Regions from separate parts of the Homo sapiens genome. Here region 2 is linked to region 1. The links come from fine-mapping of genetic effects on gene expression. A gene starts in region 1. The other region holds a variant in brackets. All regions are shown on one strand. Distances are between the middles of the regions. Region 1 holds the start of ARHGAP42 (Rho GTPase activating protein 42). Region 2 overlaps ARHGAP42 (Rho GTPase activating protein 42).

Evidence for each region. PIP is the estimated chance that this variant, and not a neighbour inherited with it, causes the effect. A credible set is the group of variants that fine-mapping cannot tell apart.
Region 2: its variant is the best candidate, but not a certain one, in a credible set for the expression of ARHGAP42 in iPS cells (HipSci, PIP 0.87).

What each region holds. Positions count from the first base shown.
Region 1 is chr11:100,685,755-100,688,570 of GRCh38, forward strand. It overlaps ARHGAP42 (Rho GTPase activating protein 42), which reads left to right and starts at 1,534. Exons shown (of 24, transcript NM_152432.4): 1 at 1,534-2,078. The coding sequence starts at 1,925. It overlaps ARHGAP42-AS1 (ARHGAP42 antisense RNA 1), which reads right to left and starts at 2,201. Exons shown (of 2, transcript NR_133571.1): 1 at 1,879-2,201. RefSeq lists silencers at 904-1,198, 1,249-1,438, 1,739-1,908 and enhancers at 1,135-1,845, 1,559-1,608, 1,929-2,298.
Region 2 is chr11:100,823,598-100,826,413 of GRCh38, forward strand. The region is part of intron 3 of ARHGAP42 (Rho GTPase activating protein 42); the gene reads left to right. Among named protein-coding and RNA genes, the nearest start is that of SNORD13I, 110 kb to the right of the region's middle. The variant G/T (reference allele first, on the strand shown) is at 1,590.

The DNA of each region.
Region 1 (2,816 bases):
AACACTTGGAGTTAAAATGGCTCTAATAGTGACTGGTCATTTTGCCAATATGGGGCCAAAGATGTGAATATGGATGGAAGGTGTTTTGAGATGGAGTCGTTCTGTCACTCAGGCTGGAGTGCGGTGGAGTAATCTCGTAATCTCGGCTCATGGCAATCGCCGCCTCCCGGATTCCAGTGACTCTCCTGCCTCAGCCTCCCAAGTAGCTGGGACTACAGGCGTGCGCCACCAGGCCCAGCTAATTTTTGTATTTTTTAGTAGAAACTGGGTTTCACCGTGTTGGCCAGTATGGTCTCCAACTCCTGACCTCAAGTGATTCTCCTGCATCAGCCTCCCAGAATGCTGGTATTACAGGCGTTAAGTCACTGCGCCTGGCCCATACTGTTTACATTATCTTATCTGTTTTAGGTTTACATGTTATTTTTAATGTTCCTGTACATTTAAAAAATTGAAACCAAGAATCTTGACTGGCTCTGAAACTTAATTGGGAAAAATGTAAAGCACTTTAGTGGAATTTTTCCCATGATCTGTAGAATAGTTTTTAAACAGATGGTTCATATGGACAAAGCAATGAAAATGCAGAAATTAAAAGCAGATCCTTAAGAACAATATCCGAGTTCTCAGAAATCCTATAGATGATGTCAGGACGAGATGTAAAGCAGTCGTTTCTTTTGCTGTCAAGGTTTTAAGAGAACAGAAATTTATTAGGTGAACCTCCACCGGAGGAAGGATAAAGCCTGTGGGTAGGAGTTAACTATTTATTTCAAACTCCAGTCCACTTCAACAATTTGAAAATTTTCCCGCTCCTAGGACAATTCCATCCAGGTGCCAATAGGAGATACTACTATTGTGATGCAAATAGGTATTCTACTAGAAGTAGGAGCACGTAAGCAGAGTGAGGATGACTTGAAAAATCGTCCCACCTTCCCAGCTATGGAGTGGGGGCAGGGGGAAGAAACACCTCCAGGCTGGATCATTGAAGCTGAGGGGTGGGAGAGCGACGGGACAATTTTTCAACGTGGAATTCAAATGCATTCGGTGGGGAAGTGTGAAGTAAAATCTAAACGAACGCTAGACAGTAGTATCTTCCATCTACGCTTCAAAATACTCAGACTTTAGGGAAACTTAACGTTGGTTTTTCTCCCAGAGAATTGTAGGGAGTGGGTGGAGGGGACACTGTTAGGGGAGGTATATTGGGAGTCAGATCCTTTTGTGGAGCGAGGGACCCCGAAGTGTCACCAAGGGCTAGCCGAAACCAGGGGCCCAAGAGGGGACAGGGCTAACACCCCAGCCAAGGCCGGAGCGCAAGCGCGGGGCTGCAGCGCGGGGAGCCCTGGAGCCCAGTGCGGGCGGACGGGTGGGGCAGGAGGGCAAAGGGGCGAAGGGGCGGGGTGGCGCTGGGTGGGAGCGCGGCGGCGGGGAGGAGGGTCTGGGAGCCCGGGTGCGATTTGCAAGCGCTCTGAGCCTGCGTCCGCCGAGGGGGAGGGTTTCCCCAGCCCGGCCGGAGTTGCGGCTGTGCGCTGCTTCTGGCTCACAACGCCGACGACTGTCAAGAGAGTTGGGGAGTGGAACTGCCGGAAGTGTCTGCGCGCCGTGAGAGAAACTTTCCTGCTCCGGCCGCGGCCCGGAGCCTCGCCGCCCCCGCGTTCCGAACGACGATGCGTCCAGATGACAACAACCTGAGGGGACTCGCGCCTCGGCCCGCCGCCCGCGCCTGCGCTCGCCTAGCCTCGGGGGAGGAAGACTGAGCCCGGCGCAGGCGGCGCGGCGCTCGGGGCCCGTTTCCTCCGCGCAATCAGTCCCCTCGCGTCCCGGCGCCTTCCCCGCGATCGCGCGACCCCAGCGCCCGCCGCGGCCGCCGGCTGCCCCCGCCCTGACCTCCGGCCCGGACGTGTCCGCGGCCGCCGCTGGCAGCGCCTGTGCCATGGGGCTGCCCACTCTGGAGTTCAGCGATTCCTACTTGGACAGCCCAGATTTCAGGGAGCGCTTGCAGTGTCACGAGATTGAGCTGGAGCGAACCAACAAGTTCATCAAGGAGCTCATTAAGGACGGCTCTCTGCTCATTGGGGCGTTGAGGAGTAAGTAGGGCTGGCGGGGGAGTGGACACCCGCATCTGGAGAGTCCCCGCGGGGTGCGGGTCCGAAGGGTGGGTTGGAGGAGTCGGAGCTTCTTTTGTTTGAATGGATTTGGGGACAAAAGCTGAAGAGCTCCCCTGCTGGTGGCCAACAAAGTTTGTTCTTGAGGTGTTCTTTACTTACTCACATGTCTACAGGGATGGGGAAAGTTCTCTACAGGGCACTGGAATATATCCTGAGGAAAGTCGTTCAAAGTCATCTCGTTGTGTAATGCTCCTAGGAAGATGTTGGGGACTTTAATTTTTTTTTTTTAATTTATTGTGTCTATTAATAGTTTGAACTAAAAAAGCCCTTAAGGGGGGAATCAAGAGTTTGTCTTAAAGATAAAATTAGGCTAGTTTAGTGATATTGAAAGAAAATTATTAATGTCTCTCATACGTCAGTGGCTCTTCATTGGACACAGTCATTGAGTTGGCTTTTTAAAAAGCATACATTTGCAGTTTTGCCATTTTGTAAGATAATGGAAGACAGCAAGGCACCAGTGCATTTTAACTCTGCAAGTTTTCTGTGCGTCTTAGTTTTGGTTTGCATTGTGTGGGTGTTGGGTGTGTCATTGGGATGAAAGTTAAGGGGTTAAAGGCCAATCAGAACTTTTGATGATCTGTAGAATATAAAGACTGTTATAGTCTATAATATAGGGCTTCTTCCACCTCCTTTCCCATACACCTCTTGATCAAATTT
Region 2 (2,816 bases), 140 kb after region 1:
ACCAATTTAATCCAAGTATTACTAGAGGGAATATTTTCTTTGGAGTTCCCTGCAGGCCCTTGAACTAAGCAACAACCAGCAAAATCTGAGATAGTTTTCTAACTGGAAAAAGCCTCTGTTTTGTTAACTCTAAACTCGTGGAATTATCAAGACTGTCAGAGAATATTAGGTTATCAAATATAAACAATTATTTATTTGTCCTTATAAATAATGACCTCCTCTGAGAAGCTCTTATGATGATATCATCAGTGAAAACAAGGCATTGCCTCTAATAAAAATCATTTTTACCCCCAAAACCACACCTATATTTAAAGGTTATGTCATTATTGAGGATATTTGAAAAGAATGTGCTATTCTGACAGATTTCAAAAGTAAAATTCTAAAACAAAGATTTTCAATCAAGTAGAGCATTGCTGAAAAAAGTAAGGGCATTATTTGGCCATGAATTTAACCATGAGTTTATTAGAATTATTAGATTATAATTAAGACAGTGTTTGTGCTTTTGCAGATTAAGTATATCTGAATGCACTTGCATATCCCCCACCCACCGGCAGCATGTGGGTAGTAGCCTCTGGAAGTGAAACTGTAGGAATGTTTGTGAGAAGGTTCCCAGGGTAGCATAGAGTTAGTATTCAATAGCTTGGTGGCCACATCTTTTCTGCACATGCTTACATAGATTGTGTGGTCTGCTCTTGGCCTTGTTTTTAAGTTAAAGTTTAATGATGCTTGCTTTAAGGCTGCCCTCACTGTTTTTCAGTCATAGACTACTAATGACTGAAGTCCTTTCAACTAGAAAGGGATGACAGGAAAGGTTAAGAGAGAGAGTTGAGAAATGAGAAAGAAAGAACAGAAAGTCATTAAAATTTCACAGGATCAGTACATACAGGTTATTGCACTAGCTTCTACACTGGAGTCCCGAATACGGATCTAGGAAGCACATGAATTCAATAACTAGTTGTATATATGATATATGATGATGACTTTTTGTCAAAATCTTCATGAGCTGGGAAATTCAGCATAGTGTAGTGAAAAATGTAGGGCTCTAGCGGAGACTCTTCTCCTAATCAACTATATATCATCATAGATGACAGATTTAATCTTGGAGTCCATGCTCTGAATTTTGGGGTTATAATCATTTCCCTCCCTACTCCATGATTTGTGTATAAACTTATGTCTGTGAAAGCAGTTTGACATCCAAGTTTTGAATAACCTTACCTCTATTACCACACATTTTGCCTGATTTTATAATCATTCCTTACTGGTTTCTTTCCCATTCTAAGCTGTAGGCTCCTTGAAGCTGTGTTACTTGTCTCAGAAGCCTTAGCACATAGCACAGCTGGGCTGAATAATTGTTATGAGTGAATGTTTTTATAAACAAATTAATAGACAAAGGAGGATGGTTAACAACATTGGGAGTATGGTGCATTCATCACAAGGAATAACATTGTAACTCTGAAATAGTAATGGCAATGGAAGTGCTTGTTAGAAAAATTTTACAGCATCATTTTCATTGATAAAATTAACAATGAGTAGCTCCTAGAAATTAGAAATACCTTTACTTAATCAACTGGCATAGACTACCCATTCTT[G/T]TTTAATAATTAAGTAATGTAGATGCTTTCAGGCTTCAAATTATTATATTGTCCTTATATTATGTTCTATGTTTATTTCTCATACTATGCCTTGTTCCTGATTCAGTTGGGTGTTACTTCTGTAACATTTTTTATGAGAAGAGGGCATACCGATTTAATAATATAAACAGTTCAACATAACTTCATAGGACAATTGAAAATGCTGCATTTAGTTTTAGGAAAATGTTAGCTCTGAAACCTTTAATGGCATTAAATAAAGTGTTTTGTTTATATCAGCCATTCAAATAAAAACAACACGATTTTTATTATACCAGAATAAGCACTTTTACCATTCATTTAATGCTTAATTTGTACGTGAAGAATATTTGGATATTGGCATCTGGCTTGTGTTGTCTTGGAGTAAAGAAAACATGAATGGGAGCTTCCTCCAGTACCGTGTTGGCTGTATGTGCAGTTTTCTGCATGGATGAGATGACTCTGTAGTGTATATTTTACGCAGCATGCTCCTTAAATCTGCTTCAAAGTGTCACTCCCAGGTTTCTTCTTCTGTTTTTCATTCTTTTGCTGCAGTCTTTACAAGTCCAGCTTGTGTGGGCATGTACCCACATTCAGTGTGCATGTGTTTTATGACTCCAATTTAGGCAGCTGTTTTTGAAATGTAGTCTTTTGTGTTTATTTATTTGCTTGGAAATGCTCAGCATTGCTAGAAAGCTCTGTACATAATGGGATGAGGAAAACCATGCAGTGGCTGAGTTCCCGTGGCTGTCAGATGTTGTACTTCAGTAGAGTTTTTGATCGGTTCCTCAGAAGCTTATGTCCAGGGTTCCTGAGTCCAAGTGGGTAGACGAGTTATTATTTATTCTAGCTGGTAAAATGCTGTTTTTTTTCTCTCTCTCTCTCTTTCCTTCCTTTCCCCACACCTCCCCTCACTTCTCCTTGAAAGTGTTATATTGAAGGATTCCACCTAACCCTTATTCCAGGGTTTTAATAATTTCTGGACAAAGAATTTTAAGAAAATATTTCTGTGGCTTGGTGTGGAATACGTCCTATAATTTCCTTTTGGGGAAACACATGAATGAGATGGCTATTGAACGTATATGTTATCCATTTTGTGGACTTTCTGTAGTTTGATTTTTAAATCCTAGACTGACTATCCCTGCAACTCAGGATGCTTCTACATGTTTTCAGAGGTTTATACTATGGATATCCAAAGTAGCCTTAATATTA